Homo sapiens: one gene and its partners. The protein of the gene in region 1 interacts with the protein of each later gene in a pairwise test. Each region holds a gene or a part of one and is shown in the gene's direction. Other genes may lie near its edges.

Evidence for each region.
Region 2: the proteins of AIG1 (region 1) and APOD interact in binary tests that used the Homo sapiens proteins (3 or more experiments, as listed by UniProt).
Region 3: the proteins of AIG1 (region 1) and CPLX4 interact in binary tests that used the Homo sapiens proteins (3 or more experiments, as listed by UniProt).
Region 4: the proteins of AIG1 (region 1) and GOLM1 interact in binary tests that used the Homo sapiens proteins (3 or more experiments, as listed by UniProt).

What each region holds. Positions count from the first base shown.
Region 1 is NC_000006.12:143,063,603-143,071,101, forward strand, and holds part of AIG1 (androgen-induced gene 1 protein), read left to right. Parts: intron 1-7,499. UniProt on the Homo sapiens protein: Hydrolyzes bioactive fatty-acid esters of hydroxy-fatty acids (FAHFAs), but not other major classes of lipids. Show a preference for FAHFAs with branching distal from the carboxylate head group of the lipids.
Region 2 is NC_000003.12:195,580,941-195,588,595, reverse strand, and holds the start of APOD (apolipoprotein D precursor), read left to right. Parts: upstream 1-4,655; 5' UTR 4,656-4,718; intron 4,719-7,655. UniProt on the Homo sapiens protein: APOD occurs in the macromolecular complex with lecithin-cholesterol acyltransferase. It is probably involved in the transport and binding of bilin. Appears to be able to transport a variety of ligands in a number of different contexts.
Region 3 is NC_000018.10:59,315,556-59,324,037, reverse strand, and holds the start of CPLX4 (complexin-4), read left to right. Parts: upstream 1-5,388; 5' UTR 5,389-5,575; coding exon 5,576-5,742; intron 5,743-8,482.
Region 4 is NC_000009.12:86,026,304-86,033,802, reverse strand, and holds part of GOLM1 (Golgi membrane protein 1), read left to right. Parts: intron 1-407; coding exon 408-521; intron 522-5,909; coding exon 5,910-5,986; 3' UTR 5,987-7,499.

The sequences.
Region 1 (7,499 bases):
TGTTAAAAAGACCGTAAACTTTATTACCTAGTGCCTTGTACAATATTAATGAGTCTAAGTTTATTGGAGTAATTTTGCAAGAGTTTAACTTTTTAAAATTGTAATGTGAAGGCCCTTTTTTCTAGCCAACTTGGATTGCAGGAATCATTTATCCTGATAGCCACAGTTGGATTCCATATTCCATGGCTTCAGTTTACCAGGATCTGAGTCAGGAATCTCAGGCTCTATGCATCCAGGAGCAGATGATTATGTGGCAGTGGCCATTCTGGCTGTATTCATTTCTCTCCTTGGGTATGAGGGTCATTCCAGTAGATTCAGAGCTTATGGTCAAAAACTGAAATACACATTGTTGCTACCAGTAATCTTATACTGTTATTCTCCAATGGTTTCTTTTCCTAGTATTGAGAAACTGTAAGAGAACTAAGGTGTTTTTGGAAAATTGAAGTTAGTAAATGGAAAAAGAACACTGTCTTGGTGTGGTAGGCAGAATAATGGGCCTCCAAAGATGTTTACATTCTCATGCCAGGAACCTGTGAATACATTAGGTTACATGGCAAAGGGAAATTAAAGTTGCAGATGGAATTAAGATTGCAAATCAATTGACCTTAAAATAGGGTAATTATCCTGAGTTATCCCATTGGGCCCAATGTAATTACAAGGGTCCTTAAAAGGAATAGGGAAACAGAAGACAAGAGCTTGTTGGAGGAAGATGTGACTGGAAGAAAGTCAGAGAGAGATACGACAATGCTGGGTTTGAAGATGGAGGATGGAGCCAGGAGACAAGGGGTGTGAGAGGTGTCTAGAAGCTGGAGAGGACAAAAAAATGGTTTTCCTCCTAGAGTTTCCAGGAACACATACCTGCTGACAGCTTAATGGTAGTGTATTTTGGACTTCTGACCTCCAGAATTGTAAAATAATAAATTTGTGTCATTTAAGCCATTCAATTGATAGTAATTGGTTACCACAGTAATAGAAAACTAGTATACTTGGCTTTAAAGCCTCTGACTTAGAAAAAAAACTTAACTCTTTTTGTACTTATATGAAATAAATGCAGTGACTCAGCTAGCCCTTTATGTATAGTAGATAACTGGTTAATTTTAGCTTTAACAAAAATGCAAGTTTTTTCCTACTTCATCCATGAAATTATGTGGAGGAGACATACATATGTGTAACAGTGGGCAATATGAGGATTTGTAAAGACTGGACTGTCAAGCGTGTCTGTGTGAAGAGACCACCAAACAGGCTTTGTGTGAGCAATAAAGCTTTTAATTCACCTGGGTGCAGGCGGACTGAGTCTGAGAAAGGAGTCAGCGAAGGGAGATGGGGAAGGGGTTGCTTTATAGAAGTTGGGTAGCTAATGGAAAATTACAGTAAAAGGTGGTTATTTATTGTTAGCAGAGAAGGGGGTGACAAGGTACATGGTGGGGAGATCATAAGACTTATTGTCCAGAAGAAGAATGTCACAAGGTCGGTTGATCAGTTAAGGTAGGGCAGGGACAAGTCACAACGGTGGAATGTTGTAATGTTGGTTAATCAGTTAAGGCAGGAATTGGCTGTTTTACTTCTTTTGTGGTTTTTCGGTTGCCCCAGACTTCTTGGCTCCTGCAGGCCATCTGGATGTATATGTGTAGGTCACAGGGGTTACAATGGCTGAGCTTCGGCTTAGAGGCCTGACATGGACAACTTTGGAAAAACTAGGTCTTTACTATGAAGTATTTCAGAGACTATCATTAAGTAACATGTCAGGCCAGGAGAAGAAATACACTTAATTGGAAATAAGCTGGAAAGAAAGAAAATTTAAACTAGCTGTTACTCAAATATTAACACTTTCTTAGTCAATATCACAGCTGATGAATTTTCTTCAAGTGATGTGGATTCATTCACTAGCAAAATGATTATGCTGTGTGTTACATGATAATTGCCCCAAAAGATAATAAAGAAGAATTAGGATAAAACCAACATAAATAAATGAAAAGAAAAAGGCAAATGTATTTTGAGGTCTTAAAGTAGTATTTGGGGTATAATAGGTGTTTAGTAAATGTTTAAGTAAATGGAAGCTTTCTCTTCCCAAATTTTCATTGAGTATTCTTTTCTTGTCCTGTCTCCTCCCAAAAACATTCAAAATGATAGGAATTTAAAAATGTATCAACCAGAACATTATTCATATGTATATGGTAGAGTCTAACAGATGAGTCAGAATCAACTTCTTTGAAAACCATGAACTGGATTTTTTAGAAAACTTAAAATATTGATGATGGATGTAAGACATCTTGATTTTTAAAGATTGAAACATATCTGGGAATCCCATTGGCTCTAGTTTGTAGTACTGGCCATTTTGAGAGTCATCCTCTCTTAGGGCCGTATCATACCCATTATTCCTCCTAGACTGGCTTTTCATTCATGTCATGGCAGAATATTGTTCAGGCCCTGCCTACTCAAAGTGCGGGCTGAGGACCAGCAGGATCAACTTTGTCTGGGAGCCTGTAAGAAATGTGGCATCTCCAGCTCCACCCCAGAGCTTCTGAATCAGAGTCTGCATTTTAATAAGATCATCAGGTGATTTCTATGCACATTCAAGGTTGATAAATGCTGCTCTAAGTTGCATTGTTTTTTCATTTACATGGATTAATTGTAGGACCCTGTAGAGCAGTCTTAATATATGAATTCTGCCTATTTTCTTTGTTTTTTTTTTGAGACAGAGTTTCACTCTGTCACCCAGGCGAGTGCAGTGGTGATCTTGGCTCACTTCAACCTCCGCCTCCCAGGTTCAAGAAATTCTCCTGTCTCAGCCTCCCGAGTAGCTGGGATTACAGGCACCTGCCACCACACCTGGCTAATTTTTGTATTTTTAGTAGAGACAGGGTTTTACTATGTTGGCCACACTGGTCTCAAACTCTTGACCTCAAGTGATCTGTCTGCATTGGCCTCCCAAAGTGCTGGGATTACAGGTGTGAGCCACCGCGCCTGGCCTGAATTCTGCCTATTTTCAAAACATATTACAGATTGACTTTCACTGTGATATAACAAAAAAATGTAAGAAATTACAATTTGAAAATAAAAGAAAGATATGTTTCAGATACGAGAGATGGGTTAGTTATTGCTATTGAGAAACAAATTTAAATAATCTTCAGGGCAACTAAGGTGAAAAACAATACACATTTGATTGTATTGTCCTTATGTTGAAAGAAAGGAGGTATAACAATTTATTGGGAAAAATACAGTTCTTTCCAGGCACTGACTTTTCAAGGTAATTTATCACTCAGATATTTATTTAAAGAACATTAAGGGTGGGTATGGTGGCTCACACCTGTAATCCCAGCACTGTGGGAGGCCATGGTAGGAGGCTTGCTTAAACCCAGGAGTTCGAGACCAGCCTGGGCATCACAGCAAGGCTCCCACTACAAAAAATTAAACATTATTTGGGGGTGCTTGCATGTGCCTGTAGTCCCAGCTATGTGGGGGCTGGGGCAGGAGGATGACTTGAGCCCAGGAGTTCGAGTTTGCAATGAGCTATGATAGTGCCACTGCACTCCAGCCTGAGTGACAGAGCCAAATCCTGTCTGTAAATAAAAATAAAAAAAAAACATTGGTTAGCATAGTAGATAATGTCTTTGATTGGTTTTTAGTGTAATATATAGAAAAATTTTTATGGTTAATGTTTCTTATTTGATGGTTTTATGAAAGCCAAAGGCATGGTCTTATATTTTGGCTAGGTGAAGGCATTTTTGTAGAAGTTTAAGGTAATATAATCTAGGTACTTTTTTTGTTATCTAAATCTGTATTGCAAAGGAATTTCAGAAAACCAGAGAGAGATGAGGATAAATAAAGTCTCAGATGTGGAAAAGCTTGGGGTGCTCAAAGAATAGGAAATAGTCAAGTGTACCTGGACGATACCATTTTTGCTTTTAGACATGCTGAGAATTTTTGACATTTAAAAAATGTTAAAGAGGGAAAATAAGCTGCTTAAGTATACTACATTTTGCATTTGAGTTAGTCTTATATTTATTTACATACTTATCATAAAACATATTCTTGTCTCTAGTTCATGACTTAATTTTAAATAGGAAATAAAATACCTTGAGAAGAGATTCTGCATGTCATTATGTAACTATGGTACTTAGTTTTGCCAGTCAAAACCACACATTGCCACGTGAAGGCCAGTAGTTTATTGAGTACTCAGGGAACAAAATTAGGTGGATTTTTTTCTGTTTTTTGTTTTTTGGGGTTTTGGATATTATACAGAGAGTGTAAAATTGCAATTTTTTTCTTCAGGAGACTCAGACTTGACCCTAAAATATGCATATAAACTTGAAGGCTCAAATAATGTTTTTTCCTAACCTGGAGGAAGAATTGTGAGAATAATGCTTTGCATAGAATCCTCTTCACCTTCTTTGCATGTTTCTTTTGGATCAGGCATAAAATAGGGGCCTGGTTTTGTTAGAGTGGGGGAAATAGTTGATGATATAATCACCCATTCCCTCTTAGTTGCAAATGGTATTGAAATTACAGAAAGTCATCTGACCACTAGTTGAGGTCACTTCTTTTCCCATTCCTGCCATTCCCCCATGTCTGGTATAACATTTGGCAAAATTGGTAACTGCTCTTGAGGGTTTTCATTTGTTTCTGTGTGTTCCTCTGAAATGTCATGTTTCTGGGGGAAGCAAGAACAACAGTACAATTTTCCACATTGAATCAGATGTTCATGTGATCCAAGCGTGCTTGGAAAAATCTTACTGCTTAGGATTCTATACAACATAGCTCTCTTGTGCAGTCTGTAGTTAGACAGTTAAAGGGCCCATGCCTCACCTGCAGGGTAGCCCTTCTGAGTGCGGTGGAAGCAGAGCTTTCTTGGAAAGTGAGACACCACTTGATCAGATCCATTGTGGAATTGAACAAGATGTAAGACAGAAGCATGGAATTCTGAAAAGTCAGACAATGCATTAGTGCACTCACATTGTCTTATATTTAGGTCTGTCAGGTTGTGTTATAATTTTAAAAATTAATTTCAAAAGCGATACATACTTATTATAGAAAATTTGTGCAAATACAGGAAACAATAGAAATACAGGGAAGAAAATATAGTCCATCTTAATTCTCCCTAATTTTCCTTGCATCTTAGCATTTTAGTGCTTCAGGATGGTATTTATTTTGGAACTTTAGTACATACAGGAACATAGAGAGACTACAGTATATATGTATATGTGTGTTCATACGTATGTAGTCAGATATCAGAAAAAATCATATTCTTTAAAACTTATTTTAAAATTACGGATATCACTTAGAGATACTGATGTTAGTATTTTGATATTTGACTTTTCAGTCATATATATACTTCTGTTAAAAAAACAAAAAATTCAATATGAACATATGGTTTTTATAAATTCTTCATCCACATACACTAAAATTTATTCCTTTTTTTTTTTTTCTCTTGAAATGGAGTCTCACTCTGTCGCCCAGGTTAGAGTGCACTGGCGTGATCTCGGCTCACTGCAACCTCCATCTCCTAGGTTCAAGTGACTCTCCCGCCTCAGCCTCCCGAGTAGCTGGGATTACAGGTGCATGCCGCCACTCCTGGCTAATTTTTTTGTATTTTTAGTAGAGACGGGGTTTCGCCATGTTGCCCAGGTTGGGCTCGAACTCCTGGGCTCAAGCGATCCACCTGCCTTGGCCTCCCGAAGTATTGGGATTACAGGCATGAGCCACCGCGCGCGGCCAATTTATTCTTTTTAGTATACAATACTGTAAGTTTTGACAGATGCATAGTTTTGATAGATGCACAGTTTTGATAGATGCACAATTTTCCAGAGTGGATGTGCCATGTTGCATTACCACCAGCAATGTGTGAGAGCTCCACAGATGGGAACTCATATTGTATCTTCAGAGTGTGGCGTTGTCAATTTTTCTTTTATTTCAGCCATTCTAATAGGTGTGTAGCACTATCTCATTGTGGTTTTGAGTTCCCCTCATGACTGAAGTTGTTAATTATCTTTTCCTGTGCCTTTTAATAATATATTCATGTTCTTTGTGAAGTTTGCCCATTTAAAAAATACTGGGTTGTTTTATTATTATTAAGCTTTGAGAGGTTTTATGTTTGCCAAATGAAAGCTCTTTGGCAAATATGTGATTTGCAAATGTTTTCTTCCTGTCTGTAGTTTATTTTATCAATAGTGTCTTAAACAGAGCAAAAGTTCATTTTGATGATACAAAATTTACCATTTTTCTTCTTTTTATGGAACCTCCTAGAAGTTTTAAAGTTTTAGGTTTTACATTTTTATCTATAATCCTTTTTTTCTGGTATATGTTGTGCAATTTTCCCTGCACCGTGTCTTGAAAAGATTGTCATTTTGCCATTGAATTACGTTTGCACCTTTGTCAAAAATCAATTGACTACATTTGTGTGTCTGTTTCTGGATTCTGTTCTGCTCCACTGATGTGTGTGTCCCTTCACAGGTACCACACATTGTTGATTGCAGCTTTATAGTAAATCTTCGAAGCAGGTAGTGAGAATCATCTAACTTTGTTCTTTTTCAAAATTTGTTTATGCTATTCTAATTACTTTTCCTTTTTGTTTAAATTTAGAATAATCTTGTTAATATCTACAGATAATTGTACTTGGATTTTTTAGTAGAATTTAATTGAATCTATAAAACGATTTGGGGAAAGTTGGACATCTTAACAATATTTACTTTTCCAACCCATGAACATGACATATCTCTTCATTTATTTAGATTTTTAAATTTCTTTCATTGATGTTTTGTAGTTTTCAGCATATAGTTTGTGCGTGTATTTTGTTAGGTTTATACCTATTTTATTTTTGATTAGTGCTATTGTGAATGGTATTTTTAATTTTTTTTTAGAAATTTTTATTTTCTTAGTCCATTTTGTGTTGCTATCACAGAATACCACAGACTGGGTAATTTATAAAGAAAAGAAACTTATGTCTTACAGTTCTGGAGGCTCAAAAGTACAAAAGCATGGTGCTGGCATCTGGTGAGAGCCTTCTTGATGCACCATAGCATGGTGGAAGGCATCACAGGACAAGAGAGGCATAAGAGAAAGAGCCAAACTAGCTTTTATGACAGACCCACTCTTGTGATAACTAACTCTCCTGTGATAATCTGTTAACACATTAATCCATTAATGGCAGAATCCTCATGACTCAATCACCTCTTAAAAGGCCTTACTTCTTAATACTGTTAGATTGGGGATTAAGCTTCCACATGAATTTTAGAGACAAAAACATTCAACGGCAGTGACCCTTTTATATTTAATTGACATTTTAATTGAGGTAATTGTAGATTCACTTCAGTTGTAAGAAATACAGAGAGATACTGTGTAGGCTTCACCCACTTTCTCCCAGTGGTTACACCTTGCAAAACTGTATTATAATATCACAACCAAGATATTGATATTAAAACAGTAAAGTTATAGAACCTTTCCATTATCACGAAGATACCTCATGTAGCCCTTTTATGGCCACAACTACCTTCTCCCTTTGA
Region 2 (7,655 bases), on another chromosome or scaffold:
CCTCATCTTCCACCTGCGGCCCATCAGCAAGTCTTGTCCACTTTATCTCCAAAGCACATTCCAAATTTGCCCACTTCTCTCCATCTGTATGCTAATCACTCTAGCCCAAACCACCATCAAACTATTTCCCAAATGACCACAGGGGCTCCTCAGCTGATCCATCTGTAACCATTTTATTCTCCATTCTTGATAGTCAAGCCCAAATAACCATGTCATGCTCTTGCCTAAAACCTTCCCATGACTCCTACTGTACTTGAAATAAAATTCAAGGTCCTCAAAGCAAGATAGATTCTGGTTTCTGTCTACCTCTCCACACTCACTTCCTCCTCACCTCTGCTCCAGCCAAACTGGTCTCTCCATTTCTTAAAAACTTAATGTCTGTTCCCACCTTAGGACCCCTGCACTGGCAGTTCTTCCTGGAACACTCTTCCTTTGGTGTTTGAATGACTGGTTCCCATTCATCACTCACATCTCAGCTGAAATGTCAGTATTCAAAGAGACTCTTCCTGACCACCAGACCGAAGTGGGCACCCTTCACTTCCTATCACGTCATCCTATTCTCTTTTCTAACCTCCCAGAGGAGAGTCACACAGATAGACAGGAAAAATAGGTACTCTCCCTCCTCAACCCACTCTAATTAGGTATTTTTCCTGTCTGTCTGTCTATCTCGCCTCTGGGAGGTAAGTCCCACAAGGGCTGAGACATTGTCTTTCTTCTTTACCACTATATCTGCAGGACTCAGAACAGTGCCCCGCACCCCCGTGTGTGTGTGTGTGTGTGTGTGTGTGTGTGTGTGTGTGTATACATACAGCAACGTAGTGTTGCTATATGTTGTTGAATGCGTGAATGAATGGATAAATAAATTAGTAACAGAGCTAGGACCAGAACCCAGGCCTCCTGCCCCCAGTCCAGTGTTCTTCCCTGCATGCCATATCAAGCTGCTGTTTTCACCAGTTTGATTGCTGTCTTCCTGTTGACCAGATGCTTGGCACCATTAAACTTTCAACTAGTTCCAGAGCCCAGTGAGAAGGGAAATGGCCACCAGGGCACAGGAGGGAGAGGAAAGAGGGCCTCTGAATGAATAATGAGGTCTATAACAAGCCCAGCAAGGACTGAGAATCTAGCATATTCTATTATTCATTCCATCATTCACGGAATATTTAGTAAACACTTACGTGTCAGGCATCATGTAAGGTGCCAGGGATAAAAAGACAATCCTACTTGGGTGGATCTGACCGTCTCCAGAAGGAGATGGAGGCATAAGCATAGTGTAATGAGTGAGGACAGGGTGACATGTGCCATGAAAACACAAAGCAGATGGGAGAACGCTGCGTGGGGTGGGCTAGGAATCCAGAAGATGACCCAGGGAGGGGGACATTTGAGCCGAGTCTTAAAGAGTGAAGGTGCACTACTGAAACCTCTCAGTCTGCATTTTCACACGAAAAGTACATTTGTGCGTCCCCTTTATTCTAACTGACAAAAGAAAAATCACTTTAGAAAGGCATACAGGATGACTCTGGTAGTTGAAAGAACCACTTATTAAGAAATAAAGAATTCTTCATCCAGAAACATGTTTTTTTAGGAGATGAGATAGTTCTCTATTTCTTGCCACAAAGAGTCCATTCAAATAACTGCATCTTCCCTGCGGGTCTGAGAGTGAAACCACTGAGGCAATCACCTCCATGATGAAAGATCATCACCCAACAAAGAACTGCTTTCCGGAAAAACCACAGACCACAGACTGTCTCTTCAAGAAATGCGCTGTCGCCTGTAATCCAGCACTTTGGGAGGCCGAGGCGGGCAGATCACGAGGTCAGGAGATCGAGACCATCCTGGATAACACGGTGAAACCCCGTCTCTACTAAAAAAAAAAAAAAATTAGCCGGGCATGGTGGCAGGCCCCCGTAGTCCCAGCTACTCAGGAGGCTGAGGCAGGAGAATGGCATGAACCTGGGAGGCAGAGTTTGCAGTGAGCCGAGATCCGGCCACTGCACCACTCCAGCCTGGGCGAGAGCGAGATTCTGTCTCAAAAAAAAAAAAAGAAAGGAAAAAAAGAAATGTGCTCTCAGGTAAAAGCAAGATTTTGCAGCAGGTGAAAGAATGAGGTAGATCTATGTGTACTGATATAGAAAGATAGATACATTGTTACATTAAAAAACAAGTTTCTTGGCTGGGCGCAGTGGCGGTGGCTCATGCCTGTAATCCCAACACTTTGGGAGGCCGAGGCGGGTGGATCACCTGAGGTCAGGAGTTTGAGACCAGTCTGGCCAACATGGTGAAACTCCGTCTCTACTAAAAATACAAAAATCACTTGGGTGTGGTGGCGGGCGCCTGTAATCCCAGCTACTCGGGAGGCAGAGGCAGGAGAATCACTTGAACCAGGGAGGCTGAGGTTGCAGTGAACCAAGATTGCACCACTGCACTCCAGCCTGGGTGACAGAGTGAGTGAAGGTCGGTCTCAAAAAAAAAAAAAAGTTTCAGAACATTGAATATTGTTATTATTACATAGGGATCTGTATAGAAAGATCTAGAGGAATAATTACAAACAAAATAATGCTTATCTCTGAGGTGTGGGATTATGAGGTGCTTACATTTCCTGAGTCCTGCATTTTGGTGCTATTTTAATTGTTTTGAACAAATGTGTATTTATTTTGGGACTTAAAAATAAACACTTGCTTAGAAGATAGGTCTGATTTGTTTTATGCTGCTTAAGAATTTGTTACTGGCTATACATTCCAGAAACATGTGAAGAGAGGATTTCCCTAAGGAATATATCACTTACCAATATTTACAGAAAAAATGAACTGAGACCTAGGAAGATCGTGTGGCTTTTCTCCCGCTGTGACTCCTAGACCTGGACCTTCAGCTCCATGGTTGCCGACTTCAGTGCTGAGGGCTAAAATACATAGATATCTCCAACTCCAACATACATATTTGGAAACTTAGGCAACAGTGCTTTGTGGAAAACTGTGCAACTGCTTAGAGGAGAGAGAATTTTTTGTAATAGGCTGAAAAGAGGCTAACTGTGTATTTCTTCAATGACAGGCAATTCTTGGTGGCAAATGTGATACAGGTGAAGAAGACAGAAACATACAGGCTAGTGCTTCTCCAGAAATACAATTGAAATCAAAATCGCGTGAATATTACCTCTGGGGCCTTTTGTATATCTTAGAAACTCATTAAGTTCTTTGGATAGCATCCATTTAATTTATAAGTATTTACTGAGCACTTAGTATGTGCTTAGCCACTGGGGCACAACACAGAGTCAAAGAGACAAACTCCTGGCACGCCTCAAGCTCCTATCCTCCTGGGGAAAACATACTAAGCAGGATAATGTATAAATAAAGGAGAGAATTTCAGGTAAAGATATAATGAAGCAGGGAAAGGGACAGTGACAAGAGTGCTATTTTTGAAAGGTCAGGAAGCTTTTTAGGGAAAAGTGTCATCTGATCAGGGACCTGGAGTGGGGAAGGGAGCTACACAGAGCTCTTAGGGGAGGGCAGCACAGGAGGTCAGCGAGAGGCAGGCCCTGGGTGGTAGTAGGAATTTCTTATGTTTCTGAAAAGGCAAAGAACATCTTAAAGAAAGCGCTCACAACGTTTGGGATGTTACGGATCTGTGTTGTTGTTTTCATGTTTATAGACTCAGTGCTGTAAATGTATCTCTGTTGCTTACATATTTTAGAATGAATTTCATTTAGGAGTCTAAGTCTACTACGAAGGCACTGCCTTATCTAAATGTCTCTAAACATACCTCCTGCCTATCACAAAGACATAGAATCTCACTCACAAGAGTCAAAGTTGTTCATTCCACCAGGAGAGATAAGGCTGGACCAAAAGCACCCCTGGGTTTAAGTCCACACTCCCCACCACCCCGGCCCCCACCCCCAAGCAGTGACAGACTGTCTTGAACTTCTCGCTGCAAGGGTCATAAAAGGGACAGAGAACAGAGCGACAGAAGATGTCTTCTGCATTCTCAACTTTTAGCCCCAGTTGTTAGAGAACTGGTATCTCCCCTACACGTCTGGCTCTGGTGGAGAAAGAATGACAGCCCCTACTTACAACGAGGAGACTGTGGCTCAGAGAAGTTAGGGGGCTGCCCAGGATCCTGGAGAAAGCCAGCTTTGACTCATAACCCTCGCGCCATTACCTGACTCCCATTAGTGGAGTCAGGAACTCCATGTTCCACTTCAGGAAATGAGCTTGTTGATTTTTCATTTACACAAAAATGAAAAATAAATACCAGATGTTTGAAAACATGTTGCAACACGTCCTGCTGGAACTTAAAAGTGCATTCTGACCAAAAAAATTAAATTAGAAAATCCACATAGCAAAAAAAAAAATGTTTTGGATGAAAATATACTTTATCTTTCTCTCACACATACTCTCTCTCTCTCTCGCACACATACCCACACACACACACACACACACACACGCGCGCGCGAAAACAATATCTCATTTCTTCTTCAGGGAGCAGCTGTGAAGGAAATCGGGGGAGGAGGATGGACACAACATCCCATCTTTGTGTTTCGATACAGACTAAGCTTTTAGGCCAACCCTCCTGACTGGATGGGGGCGGCGGGCGTGGCATGCATGAAAAGTAAACATCAGAGACCTGAAGAAGCTTATAAAATAGCTTGGGAGAGGCCAGTCACCAAGACAGGCATCTCAAATCGGCTGATTCTGCATCTGGAAACTGCCTTCATCTTGAAAGAAAAGGTATGTACTGTAGTTTTAAGCTTTTCATTTATGATAATAATGTCTAAAATAGAAACAGTCTAGACTCTCCATTGCCCCATTTCAGCTACATATAACTACCACTGATTGAGAGCTTGTGCCGGTAGCTTTAGACTTGTTCTCATTTTTCCTCAAACAAATGTACAAGGTAGGTATCATCAGAGCCATTTTTCCAGTGATAAAGCTGAGGTTCAGATACACTAGCAACATGCCTAAGATAAAACCAAACCCAGTGTGAACTCATCCCAGCGTCTTTTGCTTACCCCTCCAAACTGGACAACGAGGTGTTTCCATGCACAAACACCGTCCTAGGTGAATTCTCAGCAAGCTGTCCAACGGTGCATCGCAGTAAAATAATCTGGAAACTGGAATTAATGGTGTGACTAGAAAATGCATTTGACAATATGGCATAAAATATTGTGTTTGGGAGATACGTGTCTTGTTATATTTAATGGCTAAATGAGTCTTTGAGACCTAATGACTTATTGGAACCTATTTTATTTTATGAGGTGAAATTTCAAAATCTAGTCCTTCACGTTCTGCAGATCTTTGAGGTCAGGGGCTGTGTCCCCAGGCACTAAGAGCGCGGGCTTGTGGGAGACCTAGGCTTACATTCTAGCCTGTCCCCAGGCCTAGGCTTACACTGTGGCTTCGTAGTTTACCAGGAAGTAACCCGGGCAAATTCACCTCGTTGGTATGAAGAGAGTGTCAGCAGAGGTCGCCTCCAGAGGAGGTGCTGTGGAGACTGAGCGCATAGCACCCTTAAAATCCTGGGACCAGGGCTTCTCCACGGGTAAGCTTAATGCAAGTGGAGCAGTGATTTCCAGCTAGTGCCAGGCCCAAGGTGGATGCACTGTCACCTTAGTTGGATTGCTTTTTAATTACCTCATATTCTGTTAAAAATCATATTTCTTTTTTTTTTTTTTTGAGACGGAGTCTCACTCTGTCACCCAGGCTGGAGTGCAGTGGCGCGATCTCGGCTCACTACAGCCTCCGCCTCCCAGGTTCAAGCCATTCTTGTGCCTCAGCCTCCCAAGTAGCTGGGATTACAGGACTGCACCACCATGCCCAGCTAATTTTTGTATTTTTTGTTTGTTTGTTTTTGTTTTGTTTTTTTGAGATGGAGTTTTTGCTCTGTTGCCCAAGCTAGAGTGCAATGGTGTGATCTTGGCTTACTGCAACCTCTGCCTCCCATGTTCAAGCAATTATCCTGCATCAGCCTCCCGAGTAGCTGTGATTACAGGTACTTGCCACCACACCTGGCTAATTTTTTGTATTTTTAGTAGAGACGGGGTTTCGCCATGTTGGCCAGGCTGGTCTCAAACTCCTAACCTCAAGTGATCTGCCCACCTCGGCCTCCCAAAGTGTTGGGATTACAGGCATTAGCCATCATGCCCGGCCAAAAATAATATTTAAATTATACTTATTTTGTAAAGTATTTAAACTCCTCATAAGAACAATCTTCCTATTGATATCAGAAGAAGATGCAAAAATATATGTCGTATATAATCCATATGTTACCCAAAGTCTTAAGTACACATTAATAACATGCTCAATAAGTAATGAGTAAATTAGAATGAAAGGACATTGAAAACTATAATGGATGCTGTCCGCCCTTTCTCTCACAAGGAGTTTTTTTGTTGTTGTTGTTTGTTTGCTTGTTTTGAGACGGAGTTTTGCTCTTGTTGCCCAGGCTGGAGTGCAATGATGCAATCTCAGCTCACCACAACCTCCACCTCCCGGGTTCAAGCAATTCTCCTGCCTCAGCCTCCCGATTACAGGCATGCATGTAATTACAGGCAGCATGGGATTACAGGCATGCACCACCATGCCCAGCTAATTTTTTTATTTTTAGTAGAGATAGGGTTTCTCCATGTTGGTCAGGCTGGTCTTGAACTCCCAACCTCAGGTGCTCCACCTGCCTCGGCCTCCCATGGGATTACAGGCTTGAGCCACCGCACCTGGCATCACAAGGAGTTTTAACCACAGGAATAAAACTAATGTAACCAAGAGGCATCTTTGGAAGAGGGTCAGTCAAAGGGGTTGTTCTGAAATCCTCCTACTGAGGTAAAGAATCTGTTTCAGCTCACAAGAGAGCATTTTGTCAGAGTAAGATGTAGAACTGACTTTTGTTGCAGTGTCATGTGGTGGTGAGACTCATCAGGTCACAGAGGTGGGGGGTTATTGAAAGGCCCTATGGCGGTGCACAGAAGAAGCAGATTCGGGGTGCTGCAGACAGGAGAGGGGGAGATGGAGCTCGAGTCCCAGCTCTCTGCCCCTTCCAGGCCCCAGCTTCCCCATCTGTACACCTTGGAAGTAGAGCTAGAAAGATGACCTCTAAGGTCCTATCCAGTGTGGGGACCTTGTGGAATGTGCATAGTGTGTGGCCAGTCTTTGAGGTTTGATCCTCTGGGCCAGGCTTTCAGCTTGGGCCTACTAAGTAGAATTCAAGATCTCTTTAAAATGGATGCAAATTTGTGTGGGTTTAGGCTGCATTTCTATAAATTCATCATCCCCCAAAAGGTTAAAAGACAGGTTTTGTTTATACAGTGGTGGAGCCGATGAGAAACGGAACCTCAGAGACCAGGGAAAGTGGCCCTGTGGCAGACTTGCTCAAAGGGGCCTCAGCAACCATCTCCCCCTGCAGCAACCCCAGCTGGCAAGCTGCCACTCCTTACATAACTGTTCTTTGGAAAACCAGGCAACAAAACCTCCAGGGGAAAAAAAGCTATTGATTATTAAAGGGTATTTAGAGGTTTAGAGACTCACAATAAAGCAGTTATAATTATTCCTGTAATGACACATCCTTCGAAATGCTCAGATCTGAGAACATTTTGCTTGCATTGCATCAGTCATCATCATTACAGGGAGAAATGCAGAGAGCTGGAAATAGCTCGTGTGCAAGCTACAGGCAAGGAG
Region 3 (8,482 bases), on another chromosome or scaffold:
TCTAGGAAACAGTCCTAATGGGTTCATGAGCCTTGGCCAGGGTGAACCTGAGTGAAAGACACTACAGAATTCCTCAAGCCTCTGGGAACTAAGGCTTTGTAACTGAGGCAAACTTACTGTGTCTGCTCTGGATGAGTCTCTCCTAAGAGCCTCCTTAGTACTTAATGCAAATAGACTTATTGCTAGCCATGCCACGAATGTTACAATTTGCCAAATATACCTGAATTCCAGGCATGAACATAGCTCAGCTCAAACTGGTCAGCCCACTGTGTAAACAGTAAGTTAGAAAATTAATCTTTGGTTCCCAGCCCATCTTCCCCTTCCATGTAGAACCAGCATGGCAATTTACAATCAGATCATGGAAGCCAGCATGTCCTGTTAGAAAATAACAACCACTGAATTGCCTACCAACTCAGCACTCGACCAACATGGAAGTTCTGTGGTAGAGAGGATACGGAATAGAATACAGTTATTACCTCACCAGAAAGTGATGTCTGTGAACTGAAATAGACCAGTCATACAGTGTTGGCAAAAGAAATACTTTAGGGGCTAGGCATGGTGGCTCACACCTGTAATCCCAGCACTTTGGGAAGCCAAGGTGGGAGGATCACTTGAGCCCATGAGTTTGAGACCAGCCTGGGCAACATAGCAAGACTTCATCTCTACAAAAAATAAAAAATTAGCCAGGTGTGATGGTGCATGCCTGTAGTCTCAGCTGTTCAGGAGGCAGAGGCAGGAGGATCGCTTGAGCCCAGGAGGTCAAGGCTATAATGAGCCATGGTTACGCACTCCAGCTTGGGTGACAGAGTGAGACCCTGTCACACACACACACACACACACACACACACACACTCACACACAGATTTTGAAACGTTCGGTATAACACTGCTGAATATTTCTGGAAGACAGAAGAATCAGCCCGGGATACATTTCTTAAAATGGCCACTTTGGGAGACAAAGGATTGAGATGCTTTGAGTCTCCACAGAGTCACAAATGGTCTCACAATCTATCAGATAACAATGGGCCAAGGTAGTACTGAAGAGACTCTTTGGTTCTGTAGCTCAATGAAAACCATACTGTCATGATTGGGGAATTTCTTTGCACAGCTGGTATATAGCCTTGAGTTTGTATCTACAAGAATATTAACCAATCCTATAGAAATGAAAACAAACATGCTACTTGGCCTGGCATTTCAATACAGTTCATTAAATATGTATTAAGCATCTATGATGTACATGACACTCTATTAGGTAAAACACAAACCACTAAAATGTCTCCAGTAGGCAGTTATTAGGATTAGGACTACGTGTTTAATTTCCTTTGTGGTTTCCGTAATGGTCCTTCTATTTCCCAAGACTTTTTCCTCTTTTTATATTACCTCTTTTTTCCCAGTTAAAATAGAGGTTGAAAATTAATCCCAGTGAATCTCATCTTTAGATCATTTCTACACTTAGCCAATTAGCCAAGTGTGGTGACACATGCCTTGGCGCTTGGTGACCTTTTTCTTCTTCAGTTCTGCTGACCTTCATGAGCACAGAGGTTTAGCTGCATGGTTACCCCTGAAATGTTGTGTCACCCGCTAAGAGGATATAACAACTGAGACAGGACAACCTAATCACCATGATTTCCTTGGGGAAGGTCAAAAAAGAAATGATACCACTAGCCGATTTTAATTACAGGAGCAAAATTTAGGTATTTGATGTGAAAAGAAAAATCCCAGGTGAAGGACCAAAATGGATTTATGCTGTTTGAATGTGATCTCTTTCTAAAATTTAATTCCACTAATGGGATTATTGCTTCTTTAGCAAATTCTTTGGGTCAGATACCATCAAAATTTTCAAGTTGAATAGGCCACAACGAATCTGTGTTTACAAAGGTGATCCATTAAATCAGAATGAGGCATGATTTTAAAAAACTATGGCAAGTAGTCTTGATCCTGGGAGCTGGCAAAGAAGGCAGCAACCACTATGAGGTGGATTTGTAAGCACTAAGATGCTACTTCTGTTATTGGTGGAGGGTGTCCAGGTTCTTGGCATTTTGAACAAGGAATTAGACAAAACGCACAAACAAAGCCAGGAAAGAATGAAGCAACAAAAGCAGAGATTTATGGAAAACAAAAGTAGACTCCACAGACTGGAAGCGGCCCCACCATAGGGGCTCAAGAGCCCCTTTGCAGAATTTTCTGGGGTTTAAATACCCTCTAGAGGTTTCCCATTGGTTACTTGGTGCACACCCTATGTAAATGAAGTAGTGGCCTGCAATCAGTCTGATTGGTTGCGGAAAGCAAACAATCAGAGACTGAAGTGAAGTTACAAAGGTTACACCCTATGCAAGTATCTGATTGGTTGTGGAAAGCAACCAATTAGAGGCTGAAGTGAAGTTACAAAGTTACACTCCTATCCAAATGTCTGATTGGCTGCAGAAAGCAGCCAATCAGAGATACTTTGAATTTTCCATCTGCCACGTAGAAAAAGTTGGTGGGGGTGGGGGTGGGGGTCGGGGTGGGGGTGGGGGGCCGGGAGTTGCAAAGGGAGTAAGGAAGTAGCTTCCAGTCCTTTTGTTACTTAGGTGTGGAAAGTTGGGGTTTTCCTTTTAATTTAGTTCTAGGAAGTCAGCATGAATTGGCCTTAGGTTCCCTGCCCCCAGACCCTATTCTCCTGTCTCCCTTTTGCCTGAAGATAACTCTCCAAGTGCCTCCATCATCCGATGTAGTACCTTGATTACTTCCATTGAAAGCGATTTGCTCAAAAATAAGCCATTAGGCCTAGTGGCAATCATTCATTCATTGTTTTCCCCCAAGATTCTTATTGATCACTTACTATGTGCTGAGCATGATTCTCAGAGATGGGGATGCAAAGGTGAACAAAATTGCACTGGTCTCTCTTATGGAGCTTACATTCCAATGGAGTAGATGGAAAGGAAACAACTAAATCAAGGAAAATATACTTTCAGGTAGAGTGCAGTACTATGAAGAAAAATAGAATAGGATAGAGGATTAAAAGGTGGGGTAGTGGAGGCAGGGTATCTTAGGATGGTCAGGGAAGTCCCTCTAAGAAGGTGAATGAGAACAGAAACCTGAATTAAGCAAGGGTGAGCCACCTAGAGATGTGGAAGAGCAATACAGGCCAGGAGGTTCCACAAGGACATAGGTGGGAGCAATCTTGGTTTAAGGGCCAACAAGGACATGAATGTGATTAGAATGAGCAAAGGGAGTGTGGCTGAAGAGGCTGGCAGCTAGGCAGTGGGCAATCTTGCAGCAAGGAGTGGGGATTCTATGCAAGGACAGTAGGGAGCCATGGGATGGGGACACCTAGAGGTCCCATTCATGAATCCAGGGCATTCATTTCCCCTTTCTGAAGGAACGGAAGATTCTACCACCATTTCTACAAGATTCTACAGCCAGGCTTGGTGGCTCACACTTATAATCCCACCACTTTGAGAAACTGAGGCAGGCAGATCACTTGAGGTCAGGAGTTCAAGACCAGCCTGGCCAATATGGCAAAACCCTGTCTCTACCAAAAATACAAAAGCTTAGCCGGGCATGGTGGCGCATGCCTGTAATCCTAGGTACTCGGGAGACTAAGGCAGGAGACTCGCTTGAACCCAGGAGGCGGAGGTTGCAGAGAGCTGAGATCCTGCCACTGCACTACAGCCTGGGCAACACAGTGAGGCTGTCTCCAAAAAAAAAGATCCTACACACCAGCTAGTAGTTCCTGGATGTCCAAGGGCAAAGGTCATTGTAATAAATCAAGGAGTAAAAAGTTTTTTAAGTCGTGACCTCATTCTCAATGGAATTACCTGTTGAGGAAATAATAAGATATTTGATTTCATAAAGCACTCTCAGGAGACCTTCCACGGCGACCCTGCTGAAGCTACCACCGAAGAGTCCCCATAATGCATGACACCCCCTCTTCCTAACCCCCTCCACACAAACATACATTCAGAAAAGGACGGGACAGGGAGAAACTCCTTTACACATGGGTGCTGGAGTTTAGAATTGACACCCTCACCATTAATATTTCCTAATTCCTCATACAATGGAATTTTTAGAATAGATTTTATAATAAATCTAAATAATTACTTATAATAAAATGTAGACCGAACAGACAGAAACACAAGGCTGTGGCTTTTATTTTATGGTTTGAAAAGTTCTATGAGACAACATTAATTAGTAACATTCCTCAGTGGACTGCAATGTAGTTTATTATAAATGGTAATTTAGAGATAATGGTATGAACGTGTTAAGTTCCAAGCAACCCATCTAAAAGAGAAAGTGGAACTCAATATTGATGGGCATTCTCCTCGAAGCCCTGAGTACAGCTTATATTTCACCCTAAATTATCTTTTTTAGCCTTTCATATTGAGACCATTTAAGCAGCATTTTAAAATAGATTACTAAAAGGGAAAGCAGACGATAAAATATATAAAGCAAGCATTTTAGGCAAGAATCCAGATTATGTAATTCTATATGATCAGAGAGATAATCACCTGGTTTCTGAGAGGACTCATGCCTTCAGATAAAATAACAATGGATTACATCTCTTCCTTCCCACCCCACCCTCTTTGGCAGGCTTTAATTAGAAAGATACTAGTGTAGATTGAAGTCTTAGCCATACTCAACTCTTCCCTTGACCTGAAGAAAACCACAGCCATAGAGAATCTGGTGGGATACAAAACATTGTCAGTTTCATCCAAGTACACCAGTGAGCTTAAATAGAGCACCCAGGAGGTGCACTCTTTATGCAAGAGAAAAAAGGTGACCCCTTACATATTGATGATTTGACTCACATAATGGTCTTACCTTCTGGATCAGAGCCTTGAAGTGTCAAGCACATCATTTCCATATAGACAAGTAATATTTCCATGCAGGAGAAGGCTAAGATAATCTTCCAGATGTAAACCAAGGACCTGCTGTCTGGGTCTTTGCATTTGTCAGTTGTGTATTTATGTGCGGGACACAGTAACTATTGAAGCAAACCGAATTCAAGCAAACTAAAAAGCAAATCCTTGCATAGTACTTAAAGTCCAATGAGATAAAATGATGGATCGAAAGGATTATTTTTGCTTAATGAAGCATTCTGGGTTTTGAGTCTCATTGGACTCAGTTTTTCAACAGGATGTTTTGCTCAAGGGCTGGAATTTGGAAATTCCACAACAGCTATATAATCAGTCAGCTCTGATTAATTTAATTGAAACAGGACTCTTGATGAAGCCCTGCTGTGCTTATAATTAAAAATTTAGAAAGGGGTAGATGATGTGGGGATTTCTTTTTCCTGTGAAATTAGCTGAGTGTATTAATTCAGAAGGTAGGCAGTTGCCTCTGATTGTATGCTTCGGTAATCTGAACCATCTGCCTCTATATACTAAGGAGTTCACCACTTTAATCCAGCTTACGGCCGACAAACCACTCTTCTCTATCAGTATGCCCTTGAATAGATGAGGTTGTGCAAAGTCCTTTGCTCTTAAATGTATTGCTGTCATTGAGAATATTTGGAGGTTTTCTCTTGGGTTTGTTTGGATTTTTTTTTTCAGCTTTTGTCTGAATTTTGGTTTTATTTTTCTGGGGCAGAGAAAATGGCTTTCCTTATGAAAAGTATGATAAGTAACCAGGTAAAGAATTTAGGATTTGGTGGTGGGTCTGAAGAAAATAAAGAAGAAGGAGGTGCATCTGATCCTGCAGCAGCTCAAGGGATGACTAGAGAGGAGTATGAGGAGTATCAAAAGCAAATGATTGAGGAGAAGTGAGTACATGCTATTTCATTTCCCTTAAAAAGCAAAGGAAATTCATTCTGGCCATACCTTCTTCAGTTCTCCAGTTTATTTCTCTTTGCTTTTTAAGATGCCTTTCCTTTTGCCGTTTACCTCTAACCCAAGGAAAGGTTGTTCTTCTAAAGTAAACGGTTCCCTAACATCAGCAGCTACTATGTTCTATGTTCTACATGTATGAATGGAAATGAACAATAATAAATGAATCTATATGTTGTTCTTAAAGCAGCTTAACACTTTCTGGTCTAGGCATGTTTTGATTGACCTCAATTTAATTATTTAGATGAAAAGTGGTAGGTTTAACTATCTTTACATTCTTTCTAAACTTCACCCTCTTAGCACGTAGAAAGTCTTCAAATTGTAAGAATTCAGACCTTATACCTAGAAAAGGGCCTAAAATAACATAGAGGGCAGCTTCTTTGATCTTGCATGTGAGAAAAAAAAAAAAAACCCAGGAAGCATAACATGACAATTATGTCATAAGACTTGGCTTATCAAAGACTATGAATGGATTTGTGGACTGTTTAATATGGAAATTCTAAACATACAGAAAAGTAGAATAGTAGGACAAATACCCACATATACCTATGACATAAAATCAACAGCTTACAGTTTGCTACATTTGCTTAAAGATTAAAAAGATAGATGGTAGATAATAGCTTTTAAAGTAAATTACAGATGTCATGTACTTCACCCCCAAATACTTCAGCCACCTTCCTCCAAAAAATAAAGGCATTTTCTTGGCTATATAAAATATAACAAAAATAAAATATAAAATATAAGCAACATTTAATTGGGTATTATAGAATGTGAATATCACCAACAACTTTTCACCACTTGAAGACTGATTCTGAAATAAATGTAATCTCTGTGTAATTTTTAAATGTTTAAGGTAGAATTAAGATTCTTTTAATAATCAGTTAAGAAATGAAACATCAATCTAGAGGTTAAATGTTTATCATATGTTTCAAAAGAAAAGTATTTCTTTTTTGCCACCAGGACTCTTTTGCTAATGATCAATTACATAATAGTTGCCTAAATCCTATCGCTAAGATGATTATAGGTGAAAAGGTTAATGACCTGGAGGAAACAAAGAAAGTACAAAGACTACGTTTAGTGGAAACCTTGTCTATTGTATTTTTCTGAAAGAAATCATGGCTTATAGACTACCTAGAATACATTATGCTTGGTTCTGCAGTAACTTAAAGTTGGTTTTTAAAAAACAGTCAATGCAACTAGCAAAAATGATGGTGCTAAGACTTGGGCAAAAGAAGCAGCATTCCTTGAATATTGGCTGATTTTACCTATGGCATGCAAAAGAACAAAAAGCTTAAAAGCAAAATAAGTACTGTGTAATGAAGGATAGAAGACAAAAATCAGCATCAAACATTCTCAGATCAAGTAGGCTAATGAAAACAGAAATGTAGACTACAGTTGTGAGCATGCAAAATATCACCTAATATGTTCAAGCAGCAGATCCGATTGCAGATAAGGCATCTATTTGATTAACTAATGTCCTAGTTTTCCTTAATTTTATATCTGGACAGATCAAAGCTCAAAATGGCCAAATCATACAGTCAATCAGCAGACTGAGTTGTCAGCTACTCAGCTTTTTGCATATGTGTGTGAGAATATTATATATTTATGTAGTCACTCAATGTAAGAAATAGTGTCAGGACAATGGAGCATTTGGCTTCCCTATGATAAAGAGGGATGACTTTCAGTCCATTGTTTGAGTTTTCAAGAATTTCACCACCTAGAATGCAATATGTAGTAGGCATTAAAAATAATTCATCACAAGATAAACGCAGAGAGAGCTACAAACAGTTTAGTATATATAATAATTAAAATCAATGTTAGCAAATGAAAGCCTCCTAAACCCATCCTCATCATTGTAGGAAGTGGGGAGACTATATGAATTATAAATAAAAAACTATTTAGCAATGCACTCTATTTAATAATGCACATTCATTTTTATTTTCTTTCTGTGTTCAATGTGTGTGTGTGTGTGTGCGCACGCACCACTGGTAACATTAGTACTGAAAGAGGTCTAAACATAAATAGACTATCTGGAAAGGAAATAAAACAATAGTCTGTTTCTCCCGCCATTTTCTCAATTATATTAAAATGCTTCTTTGCCATAGTTATGCTTCAACAGTTTCTACAATATCATTTGTAACTTGACTCTGACCTTTGTTTTATTCAGTAATTGTTTGGACCCCTAGTATGAGCATAGCATTGTGAGGAATGTACTGAAATGGAAGAGATGGGTTTTCTTCTGCAGGAATTTACACTTTACTTGGTGGGGGGAGACTAGCTAGCTGCATGTGACTATAAACAGAGCAACCAGCTTTTCTGCGTGATTTGTAGACTGGCTCTGGAGGACTGGAATGTAACTCTGCGTGGCATTAGTATCAACAAATCGATCAATGGGGTTTATAGTTATTTGATTTTCAACAAAAGCGCCAAAATAATCAGACCAGGAACGGAAAGTCTTTTCAACAAATGGTGCTAAACAACTGAAAAACATTGAACTTTGACCCCTACTTAACACTATACACAAAAATTAATTTGTCATGCATCATACACGTAAACATAAAAGCCAAAATTATAAAGCTTTTAGAAAAAAAAGTAGGAGAATATCTTTGCAACTTGAAAGTAGATGAAGATTTCTGTATCATGACCCAGATTGGCAATGACCATATCAATGACCAT
Region 4 (7,499 bases), on another chromosome or scaffold:
CACGTGTCTCACAGTGGCAGCTCCATTTCCTCTCTCCATTCTAAGGAGATGCTGTCATTAGCTGTAGATATCCGTTCCTTCCTAAAACAGTGGCACCTTTCTTTTATCTTGAGTTGATTATCTCTTTAAAAAATTGAGATTTGGGTTGTTAGTTTCTCCATGTTCTGCCTAGAATGCACCCTTGTATTTAGGGCCATGCTGTCTGTAGATTCCGAGTCCAAGTGGAGTACACATAATGCATGTGCTTGTCCTGGAAGCCAGCCCTTGCGTCCCTACCATTTCCAGAGAGGCAGCAGACAGATCTGATTGTGAGCAAGTATGGCTAACCCCCAGCACTTGTGCTCTGATAGTCCTGTGACATCAAGACAGAAATGATGTAGCTTATGTTTTATGTGCTAATTTTACAGGGAGAAACCAGCAGAAACTGAGAGGAGAAGATGACTACAACATGGATGAAAATGAAGCAGAATCTGAGACAGACAAGCAAGCAGCCCTGGCAGGGAATGACAGAAACATAGATGGTAAGAATGGGGCCTACATCGGTGACGAGGTCACCTTTCATTTCTCTTTCCTGGTCCTTCACCGTGATTATCCAATGAATCCCCAAAATTATATTGTAATTAATGGGTCATTTCAAGGAGATCGTCTGTTCTTTAGGAGCTTTTAAACCAGGGGCAGTGGAGGGAAGTGAGGGTTGAGAAGCCCAAGGTGATGAAAACCATTCGGAAAGTCTGCATCGTTTCTAGAAACATATTCAGTGTGGCTCAACTCTTTAAGTAGGATGATTTTTCAGTGACATTTAGGGATTTCCCAACAAAATGGCTAGGTCACTACTTGATCAGTCTGCCTCCCAGATGAGAAGCCCCAGTATGTGCATAGAGCTTCCAAGCAGCTATGAAAGCTGCCCTTTGTATTATTATTTTGAATTTTTGAAGAGTCCAGGCCAGTATCTTGTAGAATGTATCAAACTCTGGCCTTGTCTGTTTGCTTGTGGTGGATTCAGGCTGATGAATTCTTGCTTCTCCCCAGGAGGCATAACAGCAGGTGGTCCTACAGGTGATTGGTTGATCCCTTAGCTAACATGGTGCCCACAAGGTCTCAGAAGGCCATTTTCCTTTTGATATTAATACGTCATCTAGAAGAGGATGCTTTGAACTTGTGTAGCTTTACCATCCATTGATGAACATTGCCCAAGTGGTGACATTTTACATGCTGCCATCACAGCACATTTATTACCTGACATTTTTTAAGGAACTCCTCTCCCTCCTCCAACACACTTGTTTGTTTTGGTATCACTATGGACTCATAGTATTCTTTCTTAAAATTCATTTTTCTGGGCCAAGTGTGGTGGCTCACACCTGTAATCCCAGCGCTTTGGGAGACCAAGGCAGGCAGATCAGCGGGTCAAGAGATTGAGACCATCCTGGCTAACACGGTGAAACCCCGTCTCTACTAAAAAGAGAAAAAATTAGCCAGGCGTGGTGGTGGGCGCCTGTAGTCCCAGCTACTCGGGAGGCTGAGGCAAGAGAATCGCTTGAACCCGGGAGGCAGAGGTTGCAGTGAGCTGAGATCGCACCGCTGCACTCCAGCCTGGGCAACAAGAGTGAAAATCCATCTCAACAACAACAACAAAAGAATCCAAGCCATGTGACTGTAGTTTCCCACAGCCTGAATACTGCTGATTATAGAGTCATGGGGGAGTTGAGTGAGTTCGCCTGGTCTCTGTTTTCTGTAGAGTGGCAGCTATACCCAGAGACTTGATGAGACTCAGGTCCTGGCTCAAGCCCTCGGTAAGGTGAGTGGTGGTGTGTTCTTTGGTTCTTTCATCGGGAGGCACGTCATGTCTGGCGTCTTTTTTTTTTTTTTTTTTTTTTTTTGAGATGGAGTCTCGCTCTGTCACCCTTGCTGAAGTGCAGTGGCGCGATCTTGGCTGACTGCAACCTGGCGTCTTTCTTTTTGTGATGCCAGTTGATGGTCAATGCCTGTATCAATTCATTTTTATGTTATTTGTTAATTGGAATGTTCTTAGAAATAGACACTTCAGCTGGGCGTGGTGGCTAACACCTGTAACCCAGCACTTTGGGAGGCCGAGGATGGTGGATCACCTGAGGTCAGGAGTTTGAGACCAGCCTAACTAACATGGTGAAACCCCGTCTCTACTAAATACAAGAAAATTAGCCAGGCGTGGTGGCACATGCCTGTAATCCCAGCTACTTGGGAGGCTGAGACAGGAGAATCGCGTGAACTCGGGAGGCAGAGGTTGCAGTGAGCCGAGATTGTGACATTGCACTCCAGCCTGGGCAAGAAGAGTGAAACTCCGTCTCGGGGAAAAAAAAAAAAAAAAAAAAAAAAACCTCAGTGGTATTGTTTGTATAAGGTAGATAGGATAAATGCTTGATTTCTTTCCTTTTTAACAGTTTTCATGACTATGAATTACTTCCCCATCTTCTCTGAGGGTAACTGCTTTTAAAATATCATCATAAACTTCAGAATTCAGCAGAAATCCTCAGGGCAGCAGGAGTCGTTGTAACAACTACTTCACTTCAGTTTCGGCCTTGCTGATCCTGCCGATGCCCTTTTTTTTTTTCTTCCTCAGATGGAGTCTCACTCTGTTGCCCAGGCTGGAGTGCAGTAGTGCGATCTCGGCTCACTGCAACCTCTGCCTCCCGGGTTCAAGCGATTCTCCTGCTTCAGCCTCCCGAGCAGCTGAGATTAGAGGCGCACGCCACCACGTCCAGCTAATATTTGTATTTTTATTAGAGACGGGGTTTCACCATATTGGCCAGGATGGTCTCCATCTCCTGACCTCATGATCCGCCTGCCTTGGCCTCCCAAAGTGCTGGGTGGCGTAAGCCACCACGTCTGGCTAACAATACCTTCTTTTATTACCATCTGGGCAATGCATTATTCATTTAATGTTTTAATACTTACATTTTTTTTACCTTTTCATTTTGAAATAATCTAGACTTCTTTAAAAAGCAAAAAATTTCTGTATACCCTTCACCCAGGTTCCCCAAATGTTAACATCTTATATAACCACAGTAAAATTACCAAAATAAGGAAATTAATGTTTATACAATGCTATTATCTAATCTGTAGACTTTGTTGAAATTTAGTGAGTGTCCAATTCATGTCTTTTTTTCTGGGTTCAGGATTATACACTGCATTTATTGTCAGACCTCTTTAGTGTTCTTTATCGTGGAGCAGTTTATCATTTATGTTGTTGGTCTTTTTTGAAGGGTAGTGGCTCAGTTATTTGGTTGAAAGTCCCTCAATCTGTGCTTGTCTGATTTTTCAACAATGTCCCCCTAAAAATTATCTTTTATATTTCTCCAGGATGTCAGTTGTTTCAATTGGCAGAGTTGTTTGGAATTTTTAGAATCCAAGTCCTAATTTGAATTTTCAGCTGTCTTCATTTAGGCAATTTTTTAAAAAGGCAAATGGCAAAATACACTAGCAGCCAGACTTTGAAGCAAATACAAACTCTCTGTTGTCATTGACTCCACTCATTTATGTTCTTGAGCATGTTTCACGGTCTGGTCACTGTCTTACTTCTATTCTTTTTTTTTTTTTTTTTTTTTTTTGAGACAGAGTCTCACTCTTCTTGCCCAGGCTGGAGTGCAATGGCACAATCCTGGCTCACAGCAGTCTCCGCCTCCTGGGTTTAAGTGATTCTCCTGCCTCAGCCTCCTGAGTAGCTGGGAGCTGGGATTACAGGCTCATGCCACCATGCCCAGCTAATTTTGTATTTTCAGTACAGACAGAGTTTCACCATGTCCACTAGGCTGGTCTCGAAATCCTGACCTCAGGTGATCTGCCTGCCTCAGCCTCCCAAAGTGTTGGGATTACAGGTGTGAGCCACCACCCCGGCTCTAACCACCTTTTAAATTGGGCCTAGTTTCCTACTAAATGATGGGCTTTGCGGTGAAGCCTTTTTGGATCTCTCATTCCCTACACTCAGGTGTCCTAAGGACTTGACCTTGTGCAAGGTTTTAAACAAAGTAAGTAGGTAAGGTAAAGAAAATGAGTGCCTTGTCAGCTCTTTGAAGAAGCTGAAGAAATGTCAACATCAGCTTCAACATTATTTTAAGATTGTGTCATTGAAACAGTGAGACCTTACTTGCTCCAGGGAAATTAGAAGAAAAAAGCATTAGCTCCAACTTTATTAAGAGCCTTTAACAGATACCGTTAATTTAATATGGCAGGTATTTAATGGTCATTAAACTACCATTTAATGTGCCATAGTTATAAATCAAGACCGTGGTTTTAGGTTTTATTTGTGATGTGCCTTTTTATGTTTTCTGTGTGTTAAAAGGATAGAGTAAGATCAGATGGTAGAAGCTACATACAGACATCAGCTCTGTAAAGGGAGAGCTTTGGAGTCACAAGAGCTGTCTGAAGCTGCAGACAGCTCTCAGGAGGCAGCGTGTGCCATTAGAAGTGCAGTAGCAAGGGAGTCACGCCGCACAGGAGCGTGGTGATTATATTTAAAATGTCATGAGTGCACTTGATACTGTCCATTTTCTATGGCATATGGGGCATTATGTCACTGTTACAAACAAGTATGGAATCTTTAGGTGCTTCAGCTTTGTTTCATGGCACATTGTTGGTCATCCATTTGGACACTTTGAAAGGGGAGGAGTTCCAGCTGGGCGTGGTTGCTCACGCTTGTAATCCCAGCACTTTGGGAGGCCAAGGCGGGCGGATCACGAGGTCAGGAGATCGAGATCATCCTGGCTAACAGGGTGAAAACCCGCCTCTACTAAAACTACAACAACAAAAAGAAATCAGCCGGGCGTGGTGGCGGGCGCCTGTAGTCCCAGCTACTCGGGAAGCTTAGGCGGGAGAATGGCGTGAACCCCGGAGGTGGAGCTTGCAGTGAGCTGAGATCGCACGACTGCACTCCAGCCTGGGTGATAGAGCCAGACTCCGTCTCAAAAAAAAAAAAAAAAAAAAAAAAGTTCCCTTATCCCCTTCACAGGGCATGCAATGGGGGTATGGCTTTCTTCTTCAGTGCCCCACAGCTCAAACCCCTAGGGGAAGCATGCGGACGGACAGGTTGTGGGGAGGATGGGTTTCAACCCCGCGGCAGCATCTAGGGTTGAGTGGTTACAGCTCCTGGAGCCCCACTGGGTGTGTGTTGCAGTGCGTTCTTTCAGCTTAGCTGTCCACAGGCAGCTTGTGTTAATCAGTTCAATTAGACCCTCTGCCTTATCGCAAGGACAGAGGGCTTTCTGTATCCCAGGTTCTTGCCCTAGTGTACTGAAAAAATCAGATCATGTGGGCTTGGAGAATGAATGCAAGATTTATTGAGTGGTGGAAGTAGCTCTCAGCAGATGGCTGGGGAGCCAGAAGGGGGATAGCATGGGAAGGTAGTCTTCCTCTGGAGTCTGGCTGCTCAGCAGCCGGGATCTCCTACTGTCCTTGGCCGAATTTCCCTTGGCGTCCGAATCGTTCCACCATCAATGGCCTGCCAGCGTCTTTCGATGTGTTCTTCTGCCAGTGTGTTCCTCTTGACGTCCAGCCGCTTGTGTGTGTGCCCGCTGGGGTCTCAGGGTTTTTATAGGCACAGAATGGGTGGCATGGCAGGCCAGAGTGGTCTTGGAAAATGCAACATTTGGGCAAGAAGACAGGAGTCCTTGTTCTCATTAGGTCCATGGGCACAAGCCTGAGGGTGGAGCCCTTGCCAGTGACCCTGCCCTTCTCTACCCAGCACTTCCCTGTCCCCCTCCCATATCACCGTTGCCATCTTGTCCTTGATGAGGAATACAACTCCCAATTACAGTGTTGCTGTGGGAGATGCAGTCCTCTTTATGACAGTTTCTAGAAGTTGATAAGAAAATGGGACCTGCCTAGGGCTAGTATCTCATTTAATACTCTATAGAATATTATGTGTTTTTCCTTTTTAGTTTTTAATGTTGAAGATCAGAAAAGAGACACCATAAATTTACTTGATCAGCGTGAAAAGCGGAATCATACACTCTGAATTGAACTGGAATCACATATTTCACAACAGGGCCGAAGAGATGACTATAAAATGTTCATGAGGGACTGAATACTGAAAACTGTGAAATGTACTAAATAAAATGTACATCTGAAGATGATTATTGTGAAATTTTAGTATGCACTTTGTGTAGGAAAAAATGGAATGGTCTTTTAAACAGCTTTTGGGGGGTACTTTGGAAGTGTCTAATAAGGTGTCACAATTTTTGGTAGTAGGTATTTCGTGAGAAGTTCAACACCAAAACTGGAACATAGTTCTCCTTCAAGTGTTGGCGACAGCGGGGCTTCCTGATTCTGGAATATAACTTTGTGTAAATTAACAGCCACCTATAGAAGAGTCCATCTGCTGTGAAGGAGAGACAGAGAACTCTGGGTTCCGTCGTCCTGTCCACGTGCTGTACCAAGTGCTGGTGCCAGCCTGTTACCTGTTCTCACTGAAAAGTCTGGCTAATGCTCTTGTGTAGTCACTTCTGATTCTGACAATCAATCAATCAATGGCCTAGAGCACTGACTGTTAACACAAACGTCACTAGCAAAGTAGCAACAGCTTTAAGTCTAAATACAAAGCTGTTCTGTGTGAGAATTTTTTAAAAGGCTACTTGTATAATAACCCTTGTCATTTTTAATGTACAAAACGCTATTAAGTGGCTTAGAATTTGAACATTTGTGGTCTTTATTTACTTTGCTTCGTGTGTGGGCAAAGCAACATCTTCCCTAAATATATATTACCAAGAAAAGCAAGAAGCAGATTAGGTTTTTGACAAAACAAACAGGCCAAAAGGGGGCTGACCTGGAGCAGAGCATGGTGAGAGGCAAGGCATGAGAGGGCAAGTTTGTTGTGGACAGATCTGTGCCTACTTTATTACTGGAGTAAAAGAAAACAAAGTTCATTGATGTCGAAGGATATATACAGTGTTAGAAATTAGGACTGTTTAGAAAAACAGGAATACAATGGTTGTTTTTATCATAGTGTACACATTTAGCTTGTGGTAAATGACTCACAAAACTGATTTTAAAATCAAGTTAATGTGAATTTTGAAAATTACTACTTAATCCTAATTCACAATAACAATGGCATTAAGGTTTGACTTGAGTTGGTTCTTAGTATTATTTATGGTAAATAGGCTCTTACCACTTGCAAATAACTGGCCACATCATTAATGACTGACTTCCCAGTAAGGCTCTCTAAGGGGTAAGTAGGAGGATCCACAGGATTTGAGATGCTAAGGCCCCAGAGATCGTTTGATCCAACCCTCTTATTTTCAGAGGGGAAAATGGGGCCTAGAAGTTACAGAGCATCTAGCTGGTGCGCTGGCACCCCTGGCCTCACACAGACTCCCGAGTAGCTGGGACTACAGGCACACAGTCACTGAAGCAGGCCCTGTTTGCAATTCACGTTGCCACCTCCAACTTAAACATTCTTCATATGTGATGTCCTTAGTCACTAAGGTTAAACTTTCCCACCCAGAAAAGGCAACTTAGATAAAATCTTAGAG